Linked DNA regions of Homo sapiens: region 1 is linked to region 2. The links come from fine-mapping of genetic effects on gene expression. Tissue or cell type: lung. Region 2 holds a variant in brackets; the other region holds the start of a gene. All regions are shown on one strand. Distances are between the middles of the regions. Region 1 holds the start of RTN4 (reticulon 4). Region 2 has its middle 49 kb from the start of RTN4.

What was found. PIP is the estimated chance that this variant, and not a neighbour inherited with it, causes the effect.
Region 1: it holds the start of RTN4, and the variant in region 2 is fine-mapped to the expression of RTN4 in lung (GTEx, PIP 0.94).

Annotation. Positions count from the first base shown.
Region 1 is chr2:55,042,577-55,058,212 of GRCh38, reverse strand. It overlaps RTN4 (reticulon 4), which reads left to right and starts at 7,762. Exons shown (of 9, transcript NM_020532.5): 1 at 7,762-8,468. The coding sequence starts at 7,913. RefSeq lists enhancers at 7,932-7,981, 7,944-8,756 and silencers at 8,122-8,181, 8,322-8,441.
Region 2 is chr2:55,091,348-55,106,983 of GRCh38, reverse strand. It overlaps a transcript of RTN4 not described here. Among named protein-coding and RNA genes, the nearest start is that of RTN4, 49 kb to the right of the region's middle. The variant T/G (reference allele first, on the strand shown) is at 9,160.

The DNA of each region.
Region 1 (15,636 bases), 49 kb after region 2:
AATATTTAATAAGGAAATGATAATAATAATGTAAATTTAAAAATATTCCCTCCAACTTTTCCCTCTCCTTTATCCCTTGTAGATCATGAATCAGTCCCTGAGGCCTCTCCAGTTTTTAAAGTCCCTCAAATAGGTCCTTTATTTCCAGTCCCACCATCCTAGTTTTAGTTCTCTTTAGCTTTGTGATCAAAACCCACTGAACTACTCTATTATTTATTTATTTTATTTTTGAGATAGGATTTTGCTCTGTTGCCCAAGCTGGAGGGCAATGGTACAATCATGCCTTACTGTAACCTTGACCTCCTTGGCTCAAGCGATCCTCCCGTCTTAGCCTCCCAAGTAGCTAGAACCACATGCATGCACAATCACACCCAGCTAATTTTTTATTTTTTGTAGAGATAGGTTTTTGCTATGTTGCCCAGGCTGTTCTCAAACTACTGGCCTCAAGCAAGCCTCTGCTTTGGCCTCCCTAGGTGCTGGGATTATAGGCGTGAACCACCAGGCCTGGGTGAACTACTCTTAGTACCCATCCTCTTTTCGCTTTCTCAAACGCATTCTTCACATGTTCCAAATAGTTTGCTCAATCAAGTTCTTCTGCTCAAAAATAGAGTGACTTATCAAGTCTTAATTGCTTTTGTGACTTTCAAGGTCCTTTAGAACATGGCTTCACCTTAGCTATGTGACCTTATTCTGCTCTAATAGTAGCAATAATAATAATAATTACTATTGATTGAGTACCCAAGTGCCTGACTCTGTGCTAGGTGCTTTCCTTATACAATTTGCTAACACAAATCCTTACTTCAATTAGACCTGTGTCCTATGGTTCCCATATATACTTTGCTCTCTTCTCAAATGCCTATGCTCTATTTTCTGTACCTTCTATGCCTCCGAATCCTACTATTTTGAGAGTGAGGTCATTTCTCAGCTCCTCCAAAAAATCCGCATACATCATATCAGACCCACTGATTTCTTCCCTATTTGGCTTTCTTGCTAAGCTATGCAGATATTTAATACCACTGTATGGTTATTTAGTTGTTTCAGGTATGTAAATTCATCTCCAGTTAAATAGGAGAGCAATGTAAATGTATTGGCAGCTAAATTTATTGACATCCATGGATGGGCTTTGAAACATGCATGAACCATTGAAAAATTATGTTTTGTGTTTGTGCATTTTTTCTGGGGTCAGAAGTTTTCAAAGCATCCCAAAGAGGTCTATGAAGGGGGTTGGGTTACTTTCTGGATAACAAGCCTTATTTTGAGATCAAGCCTACTACCTAAACCTAGGAATTATATCTTATTGCATAACCTCTGATTCTCCATTGTAAAATTTCTGGCTTTGTTACATAGGCCTGAGTTTTAAAATTCCGACCTGTGTTTTTTACTCTGCTTTAATAAACAGAGTGGGCATCCTGAGTTGTGATGCAGAACACATAATCACTATATTGGGAACTTATTTCAACAATAATTTCTAAATTAAATACTTTTTAAATAGGCAATACAGTTACATAATTTGAAGGTCAAAACTACAGAAAGAGGATATCCAGAGAAGTTTCACTTCTACCTGACTTTTTTTTTTTTGAAATGGGGTCTTGCTCTGTCACCCAGTTTGGGTGACACACTCCATCACGCCCAGCTAATTTTTGTATTTTTTGTAGAAATCAGGTTCGCCATGTTGCCCAAGCTGGTCCCGAACTCCTGACCTCAAGTGATTTGCCCACCTTCGCCTCTCAAAGTGTGGAATTACAGGTACGAGCCACCACAGCCGGCTCACCTTTTCATGTAAAGGAAGCACTTTATGACTTCTCTTTGGCATATCCAGATTGCCAGCGTCCTTACCCTCATACTCTGGGGCCATTATTACGTAAAATAAGGGTTACCTGAATGCAGCACTGTGATACCATGACAGCCGATCTGATCCCAGGGATGGCTGCTAAGTGACTATCACGAGGGGAGGGCAGGGAGCGTAGATAGTGTGATCACTGGACAAAGGGATGATTCACCTCCCTTGAGGGACAGAAGGGGACTGCTTGAGATTTCATCATGCTACTCAGAACAGAACACAATTTAAAACTTATGAATTGTTTATTTTTGGAGTTTTCATTTTAATATTTTTGAACTGCAGCTGACTGAGGGTAACTAAGACCACGGAAAGTGAAAGCATGGATTAAGTGGAACTACTGTGTGTGTACAGATATATATATATATATACACACACACACACACACAAACACATATATGTATATATAGATACATAAATCTATATCATCTACATATATGTATATACATGTATACATCTATATATACACATATTTATAGATATACATTCTTATGTAAACTAGACTATGCATTCTTTGACATTAGGAAATGTGTTTTATCTATTATTTATCACCAGAGCCTAGATGGTCAGTAGGTTTTTGTTTTTGTTTTTTTTGTTTTTTTTTTTGAGACGGAGTCTCGCTCTGTTGCCCAGGCTGGAGTGCAGTGGCGCGATCTCTGCTCACTGCAAGCGCTGCCTCCCAGGTTCACGCCATTCTCCTGCCTCAGCCTCCCGAGTAGCTGGGACTACAGGCGCCCGCCACCACGCCTGGCTAATTTTTTTTTGTATTTTTAGTAGAGACGGGGTTTCACCATGTTAGCCAGGATCATCCTGATCTCCTGACCTCGTGATCCGCCTGCCTTGGCCTCCCAAAGTGCTGGGATTACAGGCGTGAGCCACCGCGCCCGGCCAAGGTCAGTTGGTTTTAGTTGAATCAATGAACAATGTTTAAAGACAGTGACCACTTGGTTTCTATCTATCTCCATTGAAGATTAAATAACAGAACTTACACTTCAACCTTTAAGTATTAAAAATAATAAGTTATATATTAGAATGAGTTGTTAAATTTTGTGGACTCTTTTCTGCCTTCTTTCTTCATATGAGGACACATTTTTATTTGTCTAAGACAGCATAGGATGTCTTCTGCTTGGTTTTGTACTAGTAGATCAAAATTAACTTTCTCGTATCTGAAATAATTTTTTTGCTAGATCAAAATAAATTTCTCCAGGGAAACAATGCATATTCAAATAGCCTAATTTCTAATAATGCAGGGGACCGAAAACAGTTAAAGGAGAAAGATTTGGTTCAGTTTTAATTATGACTTTCACTTGCTTATTATGGGATTTCTTTTTGGGACTTAACATTTTTATTTTAGATCCAACACTAACTGTCAATGCTTAACTAACATGACTGAAGAAGTTGATCTTACATTTATATTTCTATTCTTATTACAGAATGGATTTAATATGTTAAGATGTTGAACAGAACCATGAACTGCATTTCACAAAATGGTACATTTCATAAAATCTAAAATCCCAGCAAAATGATAGGGACAACAACTTAGCACGCTGTTAATTTTTCACTTAAGGGTGCCAAAATGATATTTCAGTCTTTTTTACATAGAAAGGTCAGATGTCATTCAGTGGCGCTCCTGAACACAGGCAAGTCATTTTCAGAGGTGAAAAAGCTGTGGTTGACTGCTCTTGAAACAGGTTTCTCTACAATCCACCTCTCATCTTTCTTCTCTTACCGAACCCACTCTGGTGTTCACGTCCTGCTATATGTAGGCAAGAGTATACCCATCCTACGCCTTTTAACTCTTTTGAGGGGCATACATAATTCAAGGACAATTAACTTGTTCTACAAATACCAGTTTAGGTGTCAATTTAGCATTCTGCAAATAAGGTATAATACTATAGAAATGGAAGGGGTGATTTCCCCAAGTAATAGGTCTCTTACTGAAAACATGCAAGCACGTTTGTGTCTGGCGTAGTGCTGTATTCTTCAAAGTCTTGAGCAGGGCCTGGTGCAGACTGTATACCCAACAAATATTTCTCTTATTAAAAAGTATAAAGTGAAAGCACAAAAGGGATGGTTAAGCAAGATAAGAAAGATGAGAGGTGGATTACAGACACACCTGTTTCAAGAGCAGTCAACCACAGCTTTTTCACCTACTGAAAATGACTGGCCTGTGTTCAAGAGCACCTCTGAATTACATTCAATCTTTCTATTTAAAAGAGACTGAAACATCATTTTGGTACTCTTAAGAATTTTTTTATTTAAATTTTTTATTTGTATAAATTTATGGGTACAAGTGTAATTTTTTTGCATGTATTGATTGCATAGTGGTCACCCTTTTAGTGTATCCATCACCCTAATAATGTACATTGTACCAATAAGGAATTTCTCATCATCCCTTCTCCTTCTCTCCAGTCTTCTGAGTCTCCACTATCATTCCAAACTCTATGTCCATATGTACACTTTATTTAGCTCTTGCTTATAAGTGAGACCATGATAATGGAAGAGAGATTGGTTAAGCTGACCTCCCAAAGTTCTCCCAACCCTAAGATTCTATGATTCTAGCAGGCTGGATCTCTTGTAGTGTTCTCAGAGAGAACAGCTACTAACCAGTGGTATCTGAAAACTTTAATCTTCTACTTCTGATGAGGTATTTTCTTTTCTTTGTTTCTTTTTTTTTTTGTTTTTTTTTGAGATGGAGTTTCGCTCTTTTCACCCAGGCTGTAGTGCAATGGCATGATCTTGGCTCACTGCAACCCCTGCCTCTCAGGTCCAAGCAATTCTCCTGCCTCAGCCTCCCAAGTAGCTGGGGTTACAGGTGTGCACCACCATGCCCTGCTAATTTGGTATTTTTAGTAGAGATGGGGTTTCACCATGTTGGCCAGGCTGGTCTCAAACTCCTGACCTCAAGAGATCTACCCGCCTCAGCCACCCAAAGTGCGGGGATTATAGGCATGAGTCACGGTGCCCGTCTGATAAGCTATTTTCAAATATAAATTATTGAATAATTATTTTAAAACTATTATTAGTATCTAGAATGTGCATTTTTCTTTTAACTGGTTCAAATGTCCACCAGAATTTTGTTAGTGATAGTGATATTTACATCTAGTTACAACAATGTATAACTAGCTTTACTTTTAATTGTGGTAGAGCAGCAACAGCCTCCTTTCTTTTTGCTTTGTTGATCATTCTATGAAAGCTGGGCAAACTCTTTACTCATCTATCTATCAAATACTTATTTTTTTAGAAGTCACTGAGATTAATAAAATTTATTTTTATTCTGCACCAGATAGTGCTTATATTATTGCATCAATATTAACTGCTATTTCCTATTAAAATTGTAAATCTACTATTTATAATTATTCTTTTGTGAAACTTTGATTAAAGATACTCCTTTGAGACTATTTTAGTAGTAGTAGGTACAGGGATATATGAATGCAGAAATATCATATAAACAACTTGCAAATAACGTAAGTCCTGTTTATATTAGACATACATAAAGGCCCTGTGAAACTTATCATTAAGGAATTTCAGAACAGTCATAGTGGGAAAAGCATGCGGGGAAGACTGCTGATAGCTAAACTGTGACAATAGAAAAGGTCGTATCATAAAATACTGTTAGTATATTTTTGTATGTTTATGCAATTGGTTGAAAATCAGGCAAATTTTTTATAATTTTTGATAAATATTTGACAAAGACTTCAAATATGTCTCTTGTAGTCACCATTGTAGAAATTTGTTTTGTTTAAATTCATTTGGCATTAACTTCCCGCCCCAAAATTCTACATCAATACATCTCTCTTCCTACTCTTCCCAACCCCTCCAAAAAATAACACCAAACTCAAAGCAAGTCACAAACGTTTTGCACAAATAAAGCCAGTTCTCCGTGGAATTAATGTGATAGGTCTTGAATATATTGTTGATAATTAACCCAATCAAGTAACATTGCCAGGAAATCTTTATTCTTTTCCTTTTTTAAAGGTTCATAAACTTTATTTCTTAGAGCAGTTTTAGGTTTACAGAAAAGTTGAACAGGAAGTACAGAGTTCCCATACACTCTCACTCCTGCCCCCTAACCACAGTTTCCTCTATTATTATTAACATAACGCATTGAGGTGGTACATTTGTTACAACTGATGAACTGATATTGATATATCATTAACTAAAGTCAATAGTCTACATTAGGGTTCACTCTTTCTGTTGTATAGTCCTGTGGGTTTTGTCAAATGCATAATGTTATGTATCCACCATTACAGGATAATACAGAACAGTTTCACTGCCCCCAAAATCTTCTGTGTTCCACCTATTTATCCCTCCCTCCAACTCTTACTTTTCTTTTTTAATACCCAAATTAAGCCACAGTAATATAAATTAGTTGGAGCTAAGAATTTGCCAGTGATTCCCCATGGCAATCAAACTTTCTTAATTATTAATCTAGACTAGCACTGTCCAAAAGAAATATAATGTGAGCCATTATGTATTTAAAAAACTCTAGAAGCTGCTTTAAAAGGAACAAGTAAAATTAATTTAATAATATTATACTTATCCCAATATATCCAAAATATCAATTTCAACATTCAGTCAACAGGAAAGCTGAGATATTTTACATTTCGGAGGTACTAATTCTTGAAATCCAGTGCGCATTTTACACTTACAGCACATCTAATTTCAGCCTAGCTACATACATTCCGAGTGTTCAATCAGTAGCCACAAGTAGCCAGTACCTGTCAGGTACAGCACAGATTTAGACTTTGAGCAACTTGAAAGCAGGTTATCCTCTTCTCTCCAGGGCCTCCAGAGTAGGCATGCAGTGAATATTTTTGAAAGGTAAATCAGAAAGATAAAAGGATCCTGATTCTTACAAAGATGTTCTGCAACTACTCTCTTTAAACTCTCCAGCCTCATAAAAAGTGGAATGGGGATCATGCTTATTCCTGCATATCAAACCAATGACTATGGGGCTTCCTGACTCCCAGAAAGCCTGAATCATCCGAAATGTTGACTCATGAACCTAAGGTGACTGAAATGTAACGTGAACCAAATTAGCTTTCCAAGGCATCTTTGTATTTCCACTTTCCTGTCTCCCCGCTGCCTCTCTCTTTGGGTGACTCACTCTCTTACCATGTAAGAGTCCAGCAGGCAAGGCCCCAAACTCTCTTTGGAAGAAGAGCAGACTTTCAAATGGTCGGCCCCAGATCCCTAGTTAATTCAGCACAGCTGTTTTCCTCCCAATTTCGGGGGCTGCGGTTTAGACTGAGTGAGCCTAACTGTCAAAAAACAATTTTTTTCTTATTTTAGGGTGGTAGTAGTAGTGATGTAGTTTGGAACTTTGAGTGAACAAATAATCTTTTATTTCAAAAATCTTTAAAAATCCTTAGGGCCCACTTCCCAGTCCCGCTAATACCTTTCTCCAGTCGGGTTTCTTCCTTTCCCGGGAGGAAAGTTTCCACTCTCAGTTCCCCCAGGATAACGCCCTTCCGGTGGCGCGCCAGAAACCGCGCCGACCCCTCCCAGCCAGCAGCCCGCCCCCTTTCCCAGTGCTCTAACGACATACGGACGCCAGCTGCGGGCAAGGCCAAGACCCCACCCCAACTCACGGTTACCCAAAGTGGGGGTGGAGCTCCCAGCTCTCAGCCCCGCCCATTGAACGCAATCCCAGCCGGTAAGAGAGAGGAAGTGCCGTAGTCCCCACCCACTTTCATCTCCTTCCCTTTCTGTTGGCCCGGCTGGTCGCCTATCTTCTCGATCCTGTAGCCGATTGGCTCTCTCCCTCCCGCGCCAGTCCCTGCCCTCCCCTGGGGAGGGTGAGTCACGCCAAACTGGGCGGAGAGTCCGCTGGCCTCACTCCTAGCTCATCTGGGCGGCGGCGGCAAGTGGGGACAGGGCGGGTGGCGCATCACCGGCGCGGAGGCAGGAGGAGCAGTCTCATTGTTCCGGGAGCCGTCACCACAGTAGGTCCCTCGGCTCAGTCGGCCCAGCCCCTCTCAGTCCTCCCCAACCCCCACAACCGCCCGCGGCTCTGAGACGCGGCCCCGGCGGCGGCGGCAGCAGCTGCAGCATCATCTCCACCCTCCAGCCATGGAAGACCTGGACCAGTCTCCTCTGGTCTCGTCCTCGGACAGCCCACCCCGGCCGCAGCCCGCGTTCAAGTACCAGTTCGTGAGGGAGCCCGAGGACGAGGAGGAAGAAGAGGAGGAGGAAGAGGAGGACGAGGACGAAGACCTGGAGGAGCTGGAGGTGCTGGAGAGGAAGCCCGCCGCCGGGCTGTCCGCGGCCCCAGTGCCCACCGCCCCTGCCGCCGGCGCGCCCCTGATGGACTTCGGAAATGACTTCGTGCCGCCGGCGCCCCGGGGACCCCTGCCGGCCGCTCCCCCCGTCGCCCCGGAGCGGCAGCCGTCTTGGGACCCGAGCCCGGTGTCGTCGACCGTGCCCGCGCCATCCCCGCTGTCTGCTGCCGCAGTCTCGCCCTCCAAGCTCCCTGAGGACGACGAGCCTCCGGCCCGGCCTCCCCCTCCTCCCCCGGCCAGCGTGAGCCCCCAGGCAGAGCCCGTGTGGACCCCGCCAGCCCCGGCTCCCGCCGCGCCCCCCTCCACCCCGGCCGCGCCCAAGCGCAGGGGCTCCTCGGGCTCAGTGGGTGAGTGCCGCGACCTCTCGCTTCGCGCCGCCCCTCGCGCCCCTCCCTCTTTTGTGTGCAGCCCCAGATGCTTTGGGCTGGTCCCTCCTCTCCGCCCCGAGGGCGCTTTGTCTGCGGACTTCGGGGCGATGGCGCCCCGTCTGGTTGGAAGCGCGGGGAGAAGGGTGGGGCGGCCCTTGGAGCCCGGGTTTGTTCTTATTGTCCGTCTTGGTTTCGGGGAACACGTGCACCGCTCCCGGCTCCCACTTTCACCCTGTGTGATGCCCAGCGTACGGATTCTCGGAAGTTAGGCACCCACCCGTAGTAGGAGCCGGGTATATACCCGAGAGCCAGGGTTGTGGATTTATCGGGTTGGTTGGGCTTCGAGGTGAGGAAGGAAAGGCCTTGGCACCCAGATATTTTTAGGAGGTGCTTTTGTCTACCCGTCTGGGTTGCTCCTTTGGAAAAGGTGCAGTTTTGCTGCGGGTCTGTTGGCCTGCATTCTGCCCCGGGCTCCCTCCTCACCTCCTGGCTGGCGTGGGTGGCCCCTTTGCGCTTCCCCTCCCCCTCCTCCTGTGCTCGTGGGGAGCTGGCCGAGTGGAAAACGTCCACATTGACCCAACCGCAGTGAAGGGAGAGCGCCTCCAGTGGTGTGGTGCGTGGAGAAATGGGAAGGAGAGAGTTCTGGTAAAGTCCTGCCACCGCCCAGCTCCCCGGGGTGTGATGTGGACTGCTCCCCACCAGCTAAACCGAGCCAGGGAAAGGGGATCTAGGCATTGTGTTCGAGGGGGCGTAGTTCTGCCGGGGTTTCAGCTGCAGGGTCGGAGGAATTGCTGTTAGTGTGGACTTGGCCCAGCCTCTTAGTGCATCATAATTGAATCTTACAGAAAAAAATAAAAGGCAAAATGGTTGACATTCCTAAAGAAGGGAAAACCTGTGGATTCCTTGCCAGGAATTGGCTAATTGAACTCGTGGCAGATTTACCATGAGACACAGAGAAATGTTTTGAGACAGACATTTTCATATATATTGGTTAGAAATACTGTTTTTCAGAAGGATATGTTTTAGGTTACAGAATCAAAATACGGTCACGTGCCTCATAACGACGTTTAGGTCAAGGACAGACCGCATTTGCAACGGTGGCTCCATAAGGTTGTAATGGAGCTGAAAAATTCCTGCCGCCTAGCGACGTCTTGATCTTGACCCTGTGTAGGCCTAGGGTAATGCGTTTGTATCTTAGTTTTTAACAAAAGTTAAAAAAAAAATAGAAAAAAGCTTATAGAATAAGAATATAAAATTTCTTTTCTATAGCTTTAAAATGTGTTTGTGTTTTAAGTTAAACGTTATTACAAAAGAGCCAAAAAGTTTATAAAATAGAAAAGATACAGTAAGCTAAGGTTGATTTATTATTGAAAAAATATATCTAAAGATAAATTTAGTGTAGCCTAACCGTAGAGTGTCTGTAAGTTGTACAGTAGTACATGGTAATGTCCTAGGCCTTCACATTCACTCACTACTCACGTCCACAGCAGCTTCCAGGCTGGCAAGCTCTGTTCATGGCCAGTGCCCTGCACACGTGTGCCATCTTTTAATCCTTTGTACAGTGTTATTTTAGGTATGTTTAGATAAACACTACACAAATACCATTGTGTTACAGTTGCCTACAGTAACATCCTGTATAGGTTAGTAGCCTAGGAGCAATTGATTATACCATATAGCCTACATATAGGTATGTAGTAGGCTCTACCATCTAGGTTTCTGTAAGTATACTGTGAGGTTTGCACAACGACAGAATTGCCTAACAATACATTTCTCAGATCCTGTTCCCCCTGTTCAGCGAGGCATGACTATGTATGGTCTGTAAAATAGTTTTCAAGTTCTTTCATTCACCTAAGTTCCTGATTGTATGTTATTATTAGTCACGTTGTTTTATTGCCGTTTTCATCTTGGGAAATTATTTTGGAAGCGAAAAAAATCACGTTTGTTAGAGATTGAGAATGCATAATATTAGATACATTCATAAGTACTTGCTACTTCGGGGACAGAAAGTGTCCCACTAGCAGTAGGACCTTTATGTATAAAAGGTCAAGAATCAAGTAGTGTAACTGCCTGCTTGGAAATCTTCATAGCCTTGTAGGATGTTAGAGGTGATTCATTTCTTAAAAGAAAATCAGTCTGATTTTTTTTTTTCTCAATTCACTTCTCCATAATGGGGGAAAATAAGCCAATTGCGATGCTTTTTAGTAATATTTTGATGTTGACGGACTCCTCACCCCCATACTACTCAAAACACTAATTGCCATATTAAAGGTCTTAGAAGATGAGGAGTAACTCAATCTTTTCCTTTTTCTTTATGAAAAAGACATACTTGAGGGAAACTGAGGTAAGAGAAAAATATGAAATATATTTTTAAACAGGAATTTTTTTTTTTTTTTTTTGAGATAGTCTCCCCCTTGTCACCAGGCTGGAGTGCAATGACGCAATCTTGGCTCACTGCAACCTCCGCCTCCCAGGTTCAAGTGATTCTCCTGCCTCAGCCTCCCGAGTAGCTGGGATTACAGGCGCCTGCCACCACGCCTGGCTAATTTTTGTATTTTTAGTAGAGACGGGATTTTACCATGTTGGCCAGGCTGGTGGTCTTGAACTCCTGACCTCCAGTGATCCACCCACCTTGGCCTCCCAAAGTGTTGGGATTACAGGCATGAGCCACTGCGCCTGGCCACAGGAAGTTTAATGATTGACAAAAGCATACTAATCTTGTATTGGTATGGGAACAAAGAAAATAGTTCTGTCTTTGAACATTAGGGATTCAGGGGGTGACAGCACTCTCTTGGAATCTTGTGTGTTGGAATGCTGAGGTTGGAAGGCAATGGGGAAAGAATATTGCCTGTTCTACAGAGTTCCCTAATTCCATATTGATGATACCTATTGGGAAACTTTAGTTTTTTTAGTAAGTGTAAGAACATTGTGATTATGGTTGTGGATAGTTAACCATTTTCAATGTGTCTGGATTTCTTAATGCATTCAAGAGTTTGTTCATTAATTCAACCCATTATTGATTACCTACCAAGAGACAGGATCTATTCTAAGCTTTGAGGGTATAGCAATAAGCAAGACACATGCTCCCCCTTGGGAGAGTACAGATAATAAGCACATAAATAAAGAACCCAGAATAGTGGTGTTATGAGGAAAATAAACAGGATAATGGCATAGAGAATGATGGGGATTTATGGGGGCTTTTTTAGGTTAGGTGACACTAAGACAGGCTTAGAAGGTGAGATTTGAGCTGCAGAGAGAAAACATTTCCAAGCAACTTCAGGGCAAAACCCTGAGGCAGGAATGAGCTCTTTGTGTCTGAGAATCTAGTGTAAGACTAGTGAGAAAAACTAGTGGGAGAGTGAAGAGGTGGCCTTACCCACCCAGATCATTGGGGGTCTCTAACAGGCAATGGTAAAAATGTTTAGCTTTTTAAAAAAATAAAAATATGCTTATTAAATAATTATATTGTGATTTTGGAACTAAAATAAGTTTGGAAGATTCAGGGCTACTGAGAGGACTGATGTGAGACAAAGGTGAGAAATGTGCAGAGCAGGGTTAGAAGCATAGACTAGCCTGCCTGGAAGAGAGGGTTTCTAGATCACTGACACTTGTCTGTTTAACATTGCTGTTTACGTTATTTATGAGTAAGCCCTGATTTTCATCTGTTAATAAGTTGTAATTTTACTGTTTGCTGTTGTGCCCAGAGCATCTCCATCGCAATGCAGTAACTGAAGTGAGACTAAAACCTCTCACTTGAGGGCCATTTTTCATGGGAAAATACTTGGCTTAGTGGTTGGTTAAGTTAGGCTTTGAGGATATGCGCAGAAAACTCTGGCTAGAAATCGATTTGAGAGCAGTGCAAACATAATTAAGGGTGACTTCGAACTGGTCTCTGGACATGTTCTAAACCAAGGTTAATTAAGACCGAAAATATGTAGATCTGGATTCTGAAAGATACTGAATGCCAAATTAAGGAATTTGGATTTTATCATTCCACTTTAATCCATGCTCTGCTATCCAGTTGCCCTTGCTTTTGGTAATTTATATTATGAAACCAAAATTGTTTTTTTTAATTGTTGTTTCTAAAGTTATTGTTTTTCACCCCTTCTCGAATTAGAGCTTTTGGCTTTGGGAAGACAGCCATTGAAGGTTATTTGAACTGAGGCAAGGCACCGTGAAAGCAGTATTAGAAAATTGGTGACAATATTCAAGATAGGTGGGAAGGAAAAGCAGATGAATTATTTAGAAAGCTATTACAGTAGTTCTGAGAAAGATGAGTAGGGCCTGAACTATTTCATTATTTGTTCATTCAGTGAAAATGGAATAGAAGGGAGGAATATAAGAGTATAAGAAGCACGCTTTCTTTAATTGGCTGTGAATCTGTTTTTATAGTTAGTTTACGAAGAGGCTGTATGAAAGACGAATTGATAGGACTTGGAAACCATGAATGTAAAGACAAAGAAAAGAATATTAGTGCTTATTAAATCAGTTTCAGAGACTGCCAAAATTTAATTGCCATGAAAATTTGTATAAAATTGAATATTGCTCATAAATACAGATTATGGGTTGGGGCTTAAAAATTACTAGTTTTTACTATCATGAAGCCATTTATTATATGATCATTTTTATTGGCGTAGTAGCATGTATTAGAAATTTTAAGATTTTGAGTGACATATGGTTTAAATATTAGGTATCAGTTCTTAATATAAAGTCCAAGTTCCCAGGAAGTGGATGCTTCTAAACACAAGAAAGTCATGCCCTGTCCATTCCCCACTTTCATTTTTGTGATTCTGAATAATTTCTGGTTAAGCCATTTCTTATTTTTAAAAGTTGGGAATAAGTAGTATACTCCTCATGGATATGGTGAATTATGTTTCAGATTGGTTCCTGGGCAACTGAGTGTCAAATTTGTGGTCTTTTTTTTTTTTTTTTTTTTTTTTTAGTGATTTGCAAACTCTCTCAAATCCTTTTTAAAATGAAGTGATGGGTATATGTGGAACCACTGATAAATAACTGCATGGAATAGTGTTTAGAAAACATGCTATTTTAGTGCTATATTATTGTAAACTTAAAGGATTTGCCATGTTATAAAAACATTTCTGAAAAGGAGCATGTTACCTATTGTCCATTAATTGGCTTTGTTTTATGTGTAGTTATTTTCTTTTTAAAAATCTAAAAACCAAAAAACAATGGTCTCACTTTTGTCCAGGCTGGTCTCAAACTTGGGGCCTGAAGCAATCCTCCTGCCTGGACCTCCCAAAGTGCTGGGATTACAGGCATGAGCCACCATGCCTGGCAAGTTTTTTTGTTTGTTTGTTTGTTTGTTTGTTTCTTTTGAGACAGAGTCTTACTCTGTCGCTCAGGCTGGAGTGCAGTGGCATGATTATGGCTCACTATACCCTTGACCTCCTGGGCTTAAGCAGTCCTCCCACTTCAGCCCCCCAGGTAGCTGAGACTACAGGTGCACACCACCATGCTGGCTATTTTTAAAATTTTTTAAAAAAACTTTTATATTTATGTATTTATATTTTGGAGACAGGGTCTTGCTCTTTCACCCAGGCTAAAGTATAGTGGTGCAGTCTTGGCTCACTGCAGCCTCATCTTCTGGGCTCAAGTGATCCTGCCACCTCAGCCTCCCAACTAGCTGGGACCACAGGCACGTACCACCACGCCCGGCTAATTTTTGTGTTTTTCGTGCAGATAGGGTTTCGCCATGTTGCCCAGGCTGGGCTCAAATTCCTGAGGTCAAGCAGTCTTCTCGAAGTGCTGGGTTTACAGGCGTGAGCCACCACACCCAGCCTAAATATATTTTTATTTTTATTTTTATTTTATTTTATTTTTGAGGTGGAGTCTTGCTCTGTAGCCCAGGCTGGAGTGCAGTGGCGCAATCTTGGCTCACTGCAACCTCCACCTCCTAGGTTCCAGCAATTCTCCTGCCTCAGCCTCCCGAGTAGCTGGGACCACAGGCATGTGCCACCACACCTGGCTAATTTTTGTATTCTTAGTAGAGACGGGGTTTCACCATGTTGGCCAGGCTGGTCTTGAACTCCTGACCTCAGGTGACCCACCTGCCTCGGTGTCCCACAATTCTGGGATTACAGGTGTGAGCCACTGCTCCCAGCCTTATTTTTATTTTTTTAAAGATGGGGTCTTACTATGTTGGCCAGGTTGGTCTTGAACTCCTGGGCTCAAGCAGTTCTCCCACCTCGACTTCTGAAAGTGTTGAAATTACAGGTGTGAGCCACTGTGCCCCGCCATTTATTTTCATAATATACCTTCAAGCAACTTATTAGAATAACTTGATTCAAAGCCTCAATTTAATGGTTCCTTTTTAAGGTACTTTGCTAGCCCAGGATAAAAGTATAAACTGAATGGCTATTTCTTGATTCTTCCCTGGAACCCTTAAATAAATAGAAGTAAATGTTGCAGATATACTATACTTATGGTACATTCTTTGAGACTTTTTGTTCCTGTTTCTAAAGGGATCAGGTTCTTCTGAGGATGACAGCACTAGGGATGGGAACTGTAATGGTAAAACCATAGTTCTCAGTAGTGTTTGAATGAATGTGACCTTTGTGGATAGCTAGTGCAGGACATAGGTATGCAAAATGATGAGACCCAGCTTTACTGATGCTAAGATTTTCTCAGACTAATGCCATCATCATCCTTTTTAACCCCAAAGGAGGAGTTGATAATTTCATATTTAAGCTATTGATATTTATGTTTCTTGGAATGATGATCATTGATTTTTAAGTTGCTTTCATCACGTGTTTCCATAATATTCTGTTCTTACCTCTTCATAGTATATATCATTCTATATAAGGTAATGGTATGGTTACTGATTTCTTTCCTCCACCAGACAGTGTACTCCTTGAGGAAAGGTGCTGTGACCTTTTTCTTTGAGGAAAAGGACTGTATGCATTGTGTCTGCATTGCAGTGCCTTAGATGTGATAGGCACTCAGTTTGTTGAATGAGAAAGATGCTGATCTTCATATTCTGTATAGTTCTAGAATTACTATAATATCTTCTCTCAATAAAAATCCCAAATCTTACGAAAGCATTTATTTATTTATGTATACAAGGTAACAATTCCAAACAGTACTACAAGAATACACAGAAAAGTAACTCTTTCTACCTGTTACCCAGATT
Region 2 (15,636 bases):
ATTAAAAGCTCACACTACTCTAAAATATATGATTTTACACTTACGGTGATATTCAGCATTCAGGTGCTAGTGTTTGTGTACTGTCTTTTGGTTCACTTTCTTTAAACATTCAAAGAATCACTTTTAGGCTTACAAAAATAAATATTTGTTAAAATGTTCAATAAGACGGGGCATGGTGGCTCACGCCTGTAATCCCAACACTTTGGGAGGCCTAGGCCGGTGGATCACCTGGGGTCAGGTGTTCGAGACCAGCCTAGCCAACATGGTGAAACCCCATCTCTACTAAAAATACAAAAATTAGCCGGGCATGGTGGTGCACGCCTGTAATCCCAGCTACTCAGGAGGCTGAGGCAGGAGAATCACTTGAACCCAGGAAGCAGAGGTTGCAGTGAGCCGAGATCACGCCACTGCACTCCAGCCTGGGCAACAACAGCAAAACTCCATTTAAAAAAAAAAGTTTAATAAATATTACATGAAACTTGCAACAAAATGTATCTAGAAATTTGTCATTATCACTTATCCTTTCCTCTCACAACTGTGTGAGGCCCTGGATGAGGGCTTTGGGAGACACAAAGATAACAAACTCAGTCCCAGCTCTCAAGGAGTGTACAGTGTGATGCAATAGAAGATATATGCACAGATGATTATATTATGAGAAAGAAGGAAAAGCTATGGGGGAGGAAGAAGAGGAGGAGGGCAAGAAATTCAGGGTAGGGTGAGCTGTCACCCAAGTGGAATATGTGCGTCTGAGCTGGGACTACAGATGAGGAAGGATTTGAACACAGGAAAATAGGTGAGCTATTTAGAAAATTATGGCTTTGGATCTCTAGCTTATATAACAAACCGAATACCAAATCTCAACAGTATGATATTAAAAAGTACAACCCCCCAAATAGTAGAACATATAATTGAATATGTGCTTTTGAAAAGGTGAAGTATATTTTAAGCATAAGAGAAAAGAAATAAGATACAAAATAAAAGATTGCTTAAAAAATTTATTTTAGAGATGGGGGTCTCCTCCTGTCACCCAGGCTGGCTTGCAGTGGCATGATAATAGCTCACTGTAGCCTCGAACTCCTGGGTGCAAGCGATCCTCTGGCCTCAGCCTCCAGAGTAGTTAGGACTACAGACATGTGCCACTGTACTTGGCTAACTTTTAAATTTTTTGTGGAGTCTGGGGCGGGGTGTCTCTCTATGTTGCCCAGGTTGGTCTTGTATCCCTGGTCACAAGTGTTTCTCCTGCTTCCTTCCCCTCCCAAAGTTCTGGGATTAGGCATGAGCCACCACACTCAGCAGAAAAGATTGCTTTTGACTACAATAAGATTACCTATCATAAACACACTCCACAAAATAAAACAGCAAGGGAGAATGGGGAAATATTTATTACTTAATAATAGATAAAGGGTCAGTAACAATATACAGAGCTTGCGTAAAATAAATTAGAAAAACAATCTCAGCCAGCATGGTGGCTCATGCCTGTAATCCCACAACTTTGGGAAGCTGAAGTGGGCAGATCACTTGAGATCAGGAGTTTGAGACCAGCATGGCCAACATGGCGAAAACCCATCTCTACTAAAAATACAAAAATTAGCCGGGTGTGGTGGCAAATGCCTGTAATCCCAGCTACTCAGGAGGCTGAGGCAGGAGAACTGCTTGAACCTGGGAGGTGGAGGTTGCAGTGAGCCAAGATCGTGCCACTGTACTCCAGCTTGGGTGACAGAGTGAGACTCTGTCTCAAAAAAAAAAAAAAAAAAAACTTCAATAGCAAAAAAAGGGGGGAAGGCAATGAGTAATTCACAAAAAAGAAATATGGAAGGCCTAAAAATGTGAAAAAGTTCACATAAGTAGTAATCAAAGAAATGCTAATGAAAACAATGAGCAGGGCCAGGTGGCTCACGCCTATAATCCCAGCGTTTTGGGAGGACATGGTGAGTGGATTGCTTGAGCTCAGGAGTTTGAGACCAGCCCGGGCAACATGGCAAAACCTCATCTCTACAAAAAATATAAAAATTAGCCTGGCGTAGTGGTATGCTCCTGTGGTCTCAGCTATTTGAGAGGCTGAGGTGGGGAGATCGCTTGAGCCCGAGAGGTTGAGGTTGCAGTGAACCAAGATCGCACCACTGCACTCCAGCCTGGGCGACAGAATGAGACTCTGTTTCAAAAGACATATATAACAAAAAACTAAAACAAAACAATAAACAGATACTACTTCTCATTATTAATCTAGGAAGTTTCTTTTTTTAAAAAAATTATTATTTCCCAATGCTCAGCAAGAAAAATAGGAAGGAATGGATGTCTCTTCATTCAGAGCTGCCCTTAAAAAATAAAAACAAGGCCAGGCACGGTGGCTCACACCTGTAATCCCAGCACTTTGGGAGGCTGAGGCAGGTGGATCACGTGAGGCCATCAGTTTGAGACCAGCTTCGTCAACATGGTGAAATCCTGTCTCTATTAAGAATACAAAAATTAGCCAGATGTGGTGGCATGCGCCTGTAGTCCCAGATACTCGGGAGGCTGAAGCACGAGAATCATGAACCCAGGAGGCGGAGGTTGCAGTGAGCTGAGATCGCAACGCTGCACTCCAGCCTGGGCAACAGAGCAAGACTTGTCTCAAAAATTTAAAAAACAGCCAGGCATGGTGGCTCACGCCTGTAATCCCAGTGCTTTGGGAGGCCGAGGTGGGTGGATCACTTGAGGTCAGGAGTTTGAGACCAGCCTGGCCCACATGGTGAAACCCTGTCTCTACTTAAAAAAAAGCAAAAAAGATTAGCCGTGTGTGGTGGTGCGTGTCTGTAATCTTAGCTGCTGGGGAGGCTGACCCAGGAGAATCGCTTGAACCCAGAAGGTGGAGGTTGCAGTGAGCCCAGCTAGTGCCACTGCACTCCAGACTGGGCAACAGAGCAAGATTCCATCTCAAAATAAATAAGTGAATAAAAAGAACAAAAAACACTTTATTGAGGTACAATTTACATATAAAAAGCTACACATAGGCCAGGTGCGGTGGCTCATTCCTGTAATTGCAGCACTTCGGGAGGCCGAGGTTGGTGGATCACCTGAGGTCAGGAGTTTGAGACCAGCCTGGCCAACATGGTGAAACCCCATCTCTGCTAAATATACAAAAATTAGGCGGGTGTGGTGGTGGGAGCCTGTAATTCTAGCTACTTGGGAGACTGGGGCAGGAGAATCGTTTGAACCCGGGAGGTGGAGGTTGCAGTGAGCCGAGATTGCACCACTGCACTCCACTCTGGGCAACAGAGCGAGACTCCGTTTCAACAACAACAAAAAAGCTACACATTTTTAAAGTATACAACTGTATAGAAGTCTTCTGTGAGACGTAGAAAAAGAGGGAAAAAAATAAAGTACACAGCTCTGTGGGTTTAAGGATAAGTATATACCCATAAAACCATCACTACCATCAAGACCATAAATATATTCATCACCTCCTAAAGTTTTCTCCCAGCCCCTTTATTATTAATATTATTAATTTTTGTGTGTGTATGGGTAAGAACACTCAGTATAAGAGCTACCCTCTTGGACACATTTTAAGTGTACAATACAGTATTGTTAGCTATAGGCACTATGCTATATAATAGGTCTCCAGAACTTATTTATCTTGCATAACTGAAACTTTGTACCCTTTAATCATCATCTCCCCATTTTTCCCTTTCCCAAGTCTCTGGTAACCACAATTCTACTCTCTGCCCTGAGTTCGACTTTTTTAGGTTCCACATGTAAGTGAGATCATACAGTATCTTTCTGTTTCTGGTTTATGTCACTCAGCATAATGTTCTCCAGGTGCATCCTTTTAAAACTCATTGTTTCTTTAAATGTTTTATAAACTTTTAAAAATATACTTCCTTTTTTTTTTTTTTTTCCGGAGTTTTGCCCTTGTTGCTGGAGTGCAATGGTGTGATCTCAGCTCACTGCAACCTCCGCCTCCCGGGTTCAAGTGATTCTCCTGCCTCAGCCTCCCTAGTAGCTGGGATTACAGGCATGTGTCACCATGCCCGGCTTATTTTGTAATTTTAGTAGAGACGGGGTTTCTCCACATTGGTCAGGCTGGTCTCAAACTCCCGACCTCAGGTGATCCGCCCGCCTCAGCCTCCCAAAGTGCTGGGATTACAGGCGTGAGCCACCGCACCCGGCCACGATAGTAACTTCTTAGATTAATAAAGAGATTTGAATTGTCTTTAGAAAAACAATAGAGTTTTGTCTTACAAATTGTTTTTAGAAAATCTATAGAGTTTTGTTTTATAAATCTCTTGGATTCTCCTCTCCTACCTCCTACCCTTCAATACCAGGACCAAAGAGAAGCAGCAGATCCCAAGCACCATGCACTGGCCTATTAGCAGGGACTGGCAGTTGGCCATGTGTCAAGTCCAATCAGCCACCAGATTCTTGTGAGGTCTGCCAACTAAGGACGAATTTCACATCTTAAATGATTAAAAAAAAATCAAAAGAAAAATGACATGTGAAAATTATATAACATTAAAATTTTTAGCGTCCACAAATAAAGTTTTATTGAAACACAGCTATGTCCCTTTGTTTATGTGTAGTTTATGGCTGTTTTGCCGTAAAACAACAGAGTTGAGCCATTTTGGCAGAGACAGCATGGTCCATGGTCCACAAATCCTAAAAGATTTACTATCTGGCCCTTCACAGAAAAGGTTTGCTACCCCCTGGCCTAAAGTAGTAGTTTATATACCATCTTCAAGGGATTTCAGCCTTACAAAAACAAACTAAATTCCATTTAAGTGAACATTTTGATCCCTCCTTCCCTTTCCCCCTTAATCGTCATCTGCTCCAAAGAACTGAAAAATGATTTAGGCATGATTTGGATGGAAAGTTATGAAATAACAATATCTCATCTTTAAGGAATTTGGTGCTCATGATTTTTAAAAATGGACTTGTTAACTTTATGATTCAAAATAAAAGCAGAAGCCTTTTTTTGTCTTAGATTTCAGATGTCACATCTAAAAGTGAAATATCAGTAGAAAACAATAATAAGATTTCACTCTATTTTTCCTTTTCTTTTATATTTGATTTGGAGGTGTGAATATATTTGAACATATATCCTACAGTGTGTGATGATTTTGTGAAATTTGAATGTGCTGATGAAATATACAATCTTTCCAGTCACTTAGCTCTTATGTAGTGAAAAATTCACTTTAACATACAAAATTAATTAATTTGCTTATTGTTTATTCACATGCAGCAGTTCTTCTAATTAATAATTCCTATGCTCCAGGATATCCACAGGGCTGGTTCATACCATCATATGAGGACAGAAATTGGGTTGATCTTTTTCATCTCTGTGTAGCTGGTACTTGCATACCTAGCACATTGCCTGGCACAGACTATGTAGCAGAAATGCATGCTTAATGAATGAAAGTGGTTTGTTGATTGTTCTAAAGATTTCAAAGTTTTAAATTCCATTTGGTTTTGCATATATATAAAAATATACACCAAATCATTTTGGATTCTGAGAAGACTAAGTATACTGTTTTTCAATACTTCAGTTATTGTATTAATAACTTCAATTTTTACAGAAACTTATTAGTATTATAGAATTTCCTGAGAAGCTACCATGAGAAATCTCACTAAAATTATTATTACAATGGATAATGTATTATTTCACTCTTCTGAACAAGTTACAACAACATTGATTTTCAAAAAAATAAACATTTTCTGATTGGAAAAGTAATAAGTATTCATAAGAAATTCAGAAACTATAGGAATATGTAGGAAAAGACAATGATAATCTCACCCCTGGAGATAATCCCTATTAACAACTTGTTTGTTCAGATTTTTTTCTATGCATATGCCAACATGTAAAATAATTATTATTTTACTAAAATATAATCCTACTATACAAACTGTTTGGAGCTTGTTTTTGTTCTCTCATGTTTCTATGTCAAGATTTCAAAATACATTTTATAATTTTAGTGGCTTAATAGTTTCTATTACATAAATTTACCATTATTTATTCACACTTTCCTCTTGACAAATATGTGATTAAAATTACATTTTAATCCAAAGTGTTTTAAGTGTCAAGTAATCTAATGACAGCTATTTTTATAAAATGGTAAGAGTAAAAAAAAAAAATGCTAAGAGTGCTGTCAAGAGAAAAAAGAAAGAAAAGAATAAAACAAGCAAGTAAATTTTTGTTTAAGCACAAATGAACCCTAGTGCATCCTGAGAATTTCTAGCCAGTGAGCTGTGGAAAACTTGGCATGGCTGATGCAATGATAGCACAATTATATGTCAGTAATGCAAGTATATAAAATTGCAGATAAACAAATGCCTTTGCTTTAAATAAACTTTGATTTAACTACTTTAGAGACTGTTCTTGTTAGAGCTCCGTAGGGTTTTTAGGTTTAGAGAAGATGTACCTTGAGGCTTTGTTGGGGTCTAATGGACCACCAAGGAAACAGCCCACAGGTCTGCTGCTTCCCTTTCACTGTCTTCAGTTGCAGCAGTGCTGAGATCTTAACTCCTCGAACCTGACGAAAGAATTATGGCAAATGGCTGAATAGATCAAGATTTCATAATATGAATGGGCTTCCAGACAGAACCAGCATTAAGATTTATGTGATCTGGGATATGTCTTGTAATTCTACCAGTTTGATTAGAAAGGGATCTGGAGGGCTTGGGGAATGCCACCCCAATAGCTCCCTGTGTTCAACTAGGAAAGACAAGACGAATGTGGCTTGTCCAAGCCCCCAGTGCAAAGTAAGACCTTAACTCCGTAGTGGGGTCACTCCTAGCCAGGCTTCTGCTAATTTACCCCTTTCCAGACAAGTATAAAAAGCAGAAAGTACACTGGTGCTTGGTGACCTTATGAATGCCATTTGTTTTGTTGAATTTGGATTCCTTTACAGGAAATGTTCTAATATGTGCAAGTATTGCATCATTTAAAGTAGCAGATTAGTAGGACAAATGTTGCAGATGTAACTTAGACTAGTTCTCTAAAATAAGTCAGCATGTCACTAGATATGAATAAAATGTAAGTCCATGTTGCATATCAGTTGACCCACAGTGTAAGCAGGCAACAATGATGAGGCTGGAAAGAGACTAGTAATAAGAATAATAATAGTCAATGCTTACACAGCCCTATGTGCCAGGCCCTATTCTAAGCATTTTACATGAATCGCTTCATTTAAACTTTACAGGATTCTACATATTTAGCTACTGTTATTATTCTCTTTTCACAATTGAGAAAAACTGAAGCACAGATAAGTTGGTAAACTGGCACCGTGTCACATACATAATATGTGGCAGAGTGGTGATTCAAACCCAGACAGTCTACCTCTGGCACCTGCACTTTTAGCCACTAGTATGTCTGAGAAATTCAAAAATTTAAAGTCAGTCTCTAGCCAACCCAGGTGCAAAGAGCACCCCCAAATCCCTGATTGATGTCCTGAAATACCATTTCCCATGTCAAAGAGCCAGGCTCCTTGAAGAAATGGCTGAGTCAAGGTCTAGGGCAGGAAATGAACAAGGGATCCCTGAAGCACTTTGTCATATAGGTAGTGAGGAAGCTATTGAGGACTACAGGGTCATTCTCAAAAGGACAGCAGAACCAACTTAAAGAGGCTCCCAATGGCCAAAGGTGTCACAGTTTTGACATCAGTAGGGATAATACCAGCAATAGATTGAAACATCTCAAATATGTTTAAATCTATGAGTCCATAATGATGCTCAAAAAACTGGTCATGTTTAGAAGATGATTGGGAGGCAACTCATTATTGAACTGATAACCGGTAAATAAATTCTACCATTTTTTTCTGCCTTCCTTATATGAACTGTATGCCCCAGTAACTAAATAGTGCATGAGGTGAAGTTCTTGTTTAAAGAACTAATTCAGCCACTAAACAACAAAGGAGTAATAGAGTCCCCTTTCTATGGCCTCTAAAGAACTAATAGATCTAGGCCTTAAGGAGAAGTGATTGCTAACGTAACAAGAATACAGACAACCAAACAGTACGGACCTCCTGATGGATGAAGGAAGAATACACCCATTCATGAAGAAGTCTTGCCAAAAAGGCAAATTCAAATCTTACCAAGTTTCTTGTTCCAAATGCCAATTTAGAAAATAGAGAGGACAGAGGAACATGTTGCACTACATTGGGGGAATGAAGGCAGCAAAAAACTAGACTATGAGAAACTCTACGGAACAAATGACCTGATTTCGTCAATAAATAATTCGCAAGAAAGGGGGTTCAGGGGGAAACCTATAGATTAAAAGAGATTTAAAAGGCATATTGATGAATTGCAACATGTGGACCTTATTTGGATCTTAATTTTTTAAAATTAAAAGAAATTGCATTTATGAGAAAATTGGTCATTTGAACAATGACTCGATATTGATGTTAAGAGATTATTGTTATTTTTTTGGGGTGTGATAATATTATGGTTTTAAAAAACTCTTCTCTTTTACTGATAAGATATGTTCTCTGGCATTTGCTTCAAAATAATATGCAATGGAGTTGGAAGTAAAGATAAAAGAGAATTGACCCTGCGTTGATAATTATTGAAGTTGGGTGATGGGTATTTGGAGGTTTATTATTATTCTGTTACTACATAATGGTTTTAAATTATTATAATAAAATGTTTTTAAAAATTAAGTGCCTAAGTTTTAGGTTGCATAAAGTATACACTCTTTCTGATCAAAGAAAGATATTTTTACTTTAGACACTAGGATTATAAGTCCAAATGAATGAATAATCCTTAAATCTCCACCACAAGACCACAAACATTTACTAAACACCAGCTTTGTGCTGGGTACTGGAAATCCGGACATACTTCTGCCTCTAACAGGTGAAAAAGAAAATGGGACAACACTAGCCCTAATCTAAAATGACTGGAGATGTGATAAAGGGAGTACAAAGAAATACCGTAGCACAGTGCAGAGGTTAATTCCATCTAGGATAGTAACAGCTGGGAGATGGCCTTTGATAAAATTGTGTGAGGTAGAAAAAGAGATTGGGGGAAGGGCACAGAGGAGAAAGATGAGGCTGAAGGTTGATGAGGAGGGGCGGGAGTGCTGAAGGCTTCCATATGTCATTCTTGGCCCTTCAGACTCCACCTGCTTCCTGGGGGAATTTCACTTTTCCTGCTCTTGCCTATACACTGGTGATTCAAATGATTCAGAAATCC[T/G]TATCTCCAGCCCTGACCTCTATCCTGAGTTCCAGAACAGCCTGTTCAAGTGTCAGCTCTTCATTATGGATTTCACTTCAAAGTCAACATGTTCCAAAACTGAGCTCATTATCTTTCCCAGCAACCTATTCCGTCTCTCATATTCCCAATGTTTATGAAAGTGTTCAAGATAGAATCCTTAGAGGCCTGGGTGGCGTCTGCAGCTCTACCTCTGACAGTCTGCCTCTTCGAGGCCTCCTGAAGCTGCCCCTCCTCCTTCCCCCACTGCTGTCTCCTTGGTTCAAGCTTTGCCATCTCTGGGGCAATAGCAAGTGTCTTCCAACTGCTCTTTCTGCCTCCAGTTTCTTCTTGTTTTGATCTTGTTTTCTATTATTCTCTTAGAGTACCAGTGTTCCAAAGCTTTCTTTACAAGAAGTACCTGGGGTTTGATTACAAATGCAGAATTACCAGGCTTTCCCCCCAACCCCAGAAATTCTGATTCTGAGTCTGGACTGAGGCCAAGGAATTTTTTTTTTTTTTTTTTGAGACAGAATTTCACTCTGTCATCCAGGCTGGAGTGCAGTGGCACAATCAGGGCTCATTGCAGCCCTGACCTCCTGGGCTCAAGCAATCCTCCTTTATCACAATTTAGCTCTTACTCATCTTTTGCAAATACTTCCATATTAAATTGCTTAGTGGCCATGCCTTAGTTCGTGCTGTGCCCTCTGCCTAGAACTTCTCTTGGCCTCTTGTCTGCTTGGTGAACTTTTTTCTTTATTGAAATCATTGCTCAGATATCACTATCTTAGTATAATCTCCCCTAAGTACTGGGGCCACAGTGAGGGGCTTTGGCCTAGTTGCTCCCTTTAAAATTTGTACATGCCCAAATAAATACCTCGCATCTACCTAACAACCTTGCAATTATCCATTTACAATGACTGTCACTCCAACTACACCTCATTCCTTGAGTGTAGGGAAGCCTTTCTTCGTATTTTTTGTATTCCTGGGCCCAGAAAGCTGCCTGGCACAGGACAGAAGCTTAATAAACAGTAACTGCTGCAGCATGACAGAATGAGCAGAGGGTGTGGTGGAGTGCTAGCATGGCACCCAGATCTCAGGGCAGGAGCCAAAACTGGAAAGTAGCTTGCGTTCAGATTGAGAAAAAGACCCCAAAGCAACACTGAAAACCTTGGACCTTAACTTCCAACTAAGACAAAAGTTTTATTCCTAAGTGGGATTATTTAGCCAGAGAAAGGCTATGATTAGAGCTTTGATAACGTGGTGCAGGATGCTGAGAACAGTCTGGGAACTTAGACTTGAGACTGTGGAGATAATGCTGATGAGGAGTGGGTTCTGGGAGAGAACCTTGAGAGATATATTAGATGAGGCCTGATGAATGATAGATTCCAGGGATGGGAGAATGAGGAATCAAAAATCACTTGGAAGCTCAGCCAAGAGATCAAGGTCAGCATCAGCAGTGATAAGTCCTGGTGGTAGCATGCACTCTTTTTTTTTTTTTGAGGCAGAGTTTTGCTCTTGTTGCCCAGGCTGGAGTGCAATGGTGTGATATTGGCTCACAGCAACCTCCGCCTCCCGGGTTCAAGCGATTCTCCTGCCTCAGCCTCCTGAGTACCTGGGATTACAGGCATGCGCCACCACGCCCAGCTAATTTTGTATTTTTAGTAGAGACGGGGTTTCTCCATGTTGGTTAGGTTGGGCTTGAACTCCCGTCCTCAGGTAATCCACCCGCCTCGGCCTCCCAAAGTGCTAGGAACAGGCGTGAGCCACCATACCCGGCCCAGCATGCGCTCTTATATGGTGGGATGAAAATGGTACTTTACCTCTGTAGTCTCTCTCCCAATAACCCATAACCACTGTCCCATTAGGAGAAAAGCATCAGATAAATCCCAAGTGAGGGACATTCTACAAATTGCCTGATCAGTCCCTGCTCAAAACTGTCAAAGGTAGCAAAAACAGGGAAAGTCTAGGAAACTGTTAGAGCCAAAAGTAGCCTAAGAAAGCATGACTAAATGCAATGTGGTATCCTGGATGGGATCCTAACAGGAAAAGGGCATTTGAAATCTGCATAGAGCTTGGGCAACATAGTGAGATCCCCATCTCTACAAAAAAAATTTAAAAATTAGCCAGGTGTGGTGGCGAGTGCCTATAGTCCCAGCTATTTAGGGGAGTCAGGGGCAGGGAGATAGGGAGTGCCGAGGTGGGAGGACCACTTGACCCTGGGAGGTCAAGGCTACAGTGAGCCCTCATTAAGCCACTTATACTCCAGCCTGGGCAGCAAAGTAAGACAGGGTTTCACTGAAAGAAAAGAAAAAAATCTGAATAGTGTGGACTTCAATTAATAATGTATCAACATTGGTTGGTTCATCAATTATAACAAATGGACCTCACAAATATAAGATGTTAATTTTTAAAATTATTTTACAAAAATTAATTGAAGGTAGATGATGATGTGATTAACCTCATAATAATATTTGGGTTTTTTTGTCTGTGTTTTTTTTTTTGAGACAGGATCTCACTCTGTCGCCCAGACTAGAGTGCAGTGGCACGATCTCGGCTCACTGCAATTTCCGCCTGCCAGGTTCAAGCGATTCTCCTGCCTCAGCCTCCCAAGTAGCCAGGATTACAGGCACATGCCTCTACTGCCCAGCTGATTTTTGTATTTTAAGTACAGACGGGGTTTCACCATTTTGGCCAGGCTGATCTCGAACTCCTGAAGTCAGGTGATCCACCTGCCTCGGCCTTCCAAGTGCTGCGATTACAGGTGTGAGCCACCGCGCCCAGCCTTATTATGGTATTTGGATATTGCATGTTGTGTGGATGGAGTATGGCGATAATACGGGAAATACAAGAGGAGGACTTGTGTGGAGTAGGAGGTCACTCGGAAACCATGGTTATTTCATTGGTATTCAAAATCTGAAGTTTCTTATATGAATTTCTTGCTGTGCATCTCTTGCTTTCACTTTTGGGTATTAACACTCAAGCCTGTCTCAAGTCCACTTCATTCTTTGCTTGACCTAACTCAGGGGTAACTGTCAGTCTTACATAGACCTGATGTTAGCACCATGGTTCCTTGTGCCTCAAACGTTTTCCACCAGATTGTCTCCTAGTCAGCTCTTCCTTGTCATTCATCTCAAATGTCCCCTGCCCAGAAAGCCTCCTTTGATGACCTGATCTAAAGTAGCCCCTCCCCAGTCACTCCACATAGCATGGCTCTGTTGTGTTTTGTTCATGGCTCTTATCACTATCTAATATTTACTTGTCTGTTTACTTGTTTATGGTATGTGGCGTATTTTCCCACTCAAACTGAAGTCCCATGAAAGCAGAAGCTCACCTGATTGGTCACTGCTCTATACTTCACTGCGCAACAGTACCCAGAGTGCTAGTGATGCTCAGGAATTATCTGCTTAATTAATTCATGTAAAACACTCTCTTTGTCAGCTTGGCGACTGTCACAAAATAGCACAGCCTGGGTGACTTCAACAACAAACATGTATTTCCTACAGTTCTGGAGGCTGAAAAGCCCAAAATGCAGGTGCTGATGGATTCCTGGTGAGGGCTTTCTTCCTGGCTTGCAGACAGCTGCCTTCTCACTGTGTCCTCATGTGGTGGAGAGAGAGAGATCTCTCCTTAGAAGGCACTAATCCCATCATGGGGACTCTACTCTCAGGGCCTCATCTAAATCTAATTACCCCCCAAAGGCTCCACATCCTAATACCATCACACTGAGGGTGCAGCTTTAACATATGAATCTTGGGGGAACATGATTCAGTCCATAACAAACACCATTATGGCTCCATCCGCTCTGCCACCCAGATACATTAGTGTAGGATATTAGTGATCGTAAGAAAATTGTGACTCTTTCATGCTATTTCCATGTCCCTCTCATATTCCATTTATAAATAGAATAAAAGCAAGAAAATTCTCTTCCTTATAATTCCTTTCCCAATTCTATTTCCCTTAGAAAAAGCAAACCATTCAAGTAACAGAAGCATAGCTAAATGAAATGCATTATATCCTTGCCAGACCTTAACAGGGAGTTAGTTAAGGGGCCCTCAGACTGCCTTCCTCTGGCTGTAATCAGAGGAGGAAACAATTGAGACATTTACCCTTTTTCCTCTTACCAATTTCTCTTCTCCTTTTCTCCTTCATCTCTGACTCTTTCCTAATCCCCCCTGGCCTCGTGGAGGGAGAGGTGTTGGTACCCTTGTACTCTCCAGATCTCAGGAAAGATGCAGATAATGACTCAGGGCTTCCTCCGGAAGAAGCATCACCTCTAAGCTATGCTGCGGAATCACTTAGAGGTTATGAGTGCAAGAACTTCCCTCAGCATAATAAACACCTTTCTGGCGTAACAGGAGAATGAAGAATACTTTCTTTGGGCCCAGGGACATTATTGCTTAATTTATTCTATATATATATAAAATAAATTAAATATATATAGAATAAATTATTTAAGTATAAAATACACACATATGTTTATGTGTTTGTAAATAAAACAACATACAGGTATACATGCATTTAGCCATTTAGAGTTCAACAGCATTTCAGTTGTATTTTTTAGCATTTCAACCACAAAAACTGTTGAACTAGGCACTTACAGGTATTACTAAGAGCAAATACAAATTCTATATTAATGTGTATGACATTTCTTCATTAAAGAGCTGTCACTATAATTGGCTGGCCCACGAATGTGCATCATAAGCTATCAAAACACAGACATTTTCAAGCAGCTCTTAGAACAATGCAAGGCTCTTATCTTCTGATATTTTACACACGTACACACACACATAGACACACACACAATGGTTATTTTTATTAGTGGTCAGAACTCAGTAAGCAACACTGAATAGATAAGTGAAAAAGTGAATTTTTAAAATCAAACAAAAAAGTTTTACCCATTGGGAAAATGTCTGTGAAGAAGAAGAAAATGCGAAGGGGCAAAACTGGCTACTTTGAAAGAATAAAACTTCACCCCATGTGAATTTTCCTGGGGCCGCTTCTAGCTCTAGTGTGAGGCCTCTGCTTTCTCCAGGGGAGCCCCCAAACTGAAATTGGAAAAGGGCATCTACATATATATGTGGTCAGTTTTACCTGGCTTACAGGAAGGAGTTAAATGACAAAACTCTAATGAGTGAGGCTTTTACCAGGTGCCACAATTGGGTGTGGCCTCTGACAGAGGGCAAGCAGGAAACAAGTGAAACTCAGGTATACTCATTCCACAAGTTTGTGTTGAGCACTTTTTTCTGCCAGGTAGTGTTCTAGGAGCTGGAGATAAAAAATCTCTTCCTTCGGGCCGGGCACGGTGGCTCACGCCTGTAATCCCAGCACTTTAGGAGGCCGAGGTGGGCAGATCACCTGAGGTTGGGAGTTTGAGACCAGGCTGACAACATGGAGAAACCCTGTCTCTACTAAAAATACAAAATTAGCCAGGGGTGGTGGTGAATGCCTGTAATCCCAGCTACTAGGGAGGCTGAGGCAGGAGAATTGCTTGAACCCAGGAGGTGGAGGTTACGGTGAGCTGAGATCATGCCATTACACTCCAGCCTGGGCAACAAGAGGGAAACTCCAACTCGAAAAAAAAAAAAAGAAAAGAAAAAAAAATCTCTCCCTTCATTGAGCTTCCTTTTTTTTTTTTAAGTCATGGTCTCACTCTGTCACCCAGGCTGGAGTGCAGTGGTGCCATCTCAGCTCACTGCAGCCTCAAACTCCTGGACTCAAGCAATCTTCCCACCTCAACCTCCCAGGTAGCTGAGACTACAGGCATGTGCCACCAAGCCTGGCATGGTTTGGCTGTGTCCCCACCCAAATCTCAACTTGAATTGTGTCTCCCAGAATTCCCACATGTTGTGGGAGGGACCCAGGGGGAGGTAATTGAATCATGGGGGCCAGTCTTGCCTGTGCTGTTCTCGTGATAGTGAGTAAGTCTCACGAGAGCTGATGGATTTATCAGGGGTTTCCGCTTTTGCATCTTTTTTATTTTTCTCTTGCCGCTGCCATGTAAGAAATGCCTTTTACCTCCTGCCATGATTCTGAGGCCTCCCCAGCCATGTGGAACTGTAAGTCCAACTAAACCTCTTTTTCTTCCTAGTTTTGGGTATGTCTTTATCAGCAGCATGAAAACAGACTAATACACTGGCTAATTAAAAAAAGTTTTCTTTTTGGAGAGACAGTATCCTGCTATATTGCCCAGGCAGGTCCCAAACTCCTGGGCTCAAGCAATCCTCCTGCCTCGGCCTCCCACAGTACTGGGATTCTAGGTACAAGCTACTGCAGCTGGCCTGAGCTTACATTCTAATGAGGACAGGAAGATGAAAAATTTGTAATCAAGCAACAAGTAAGTGTTACAGGAAAATAAGATAAAGGGTAGAGAGTGAGCAGGGGCTAGAAGTTTAGGGATTGGGGCAGACAGGTGAAAATTTAAGGGAAAAGCATTCCAGGCAGAAAAATAGCATGTACGGAGGCTCTGAGGCAAGAAGC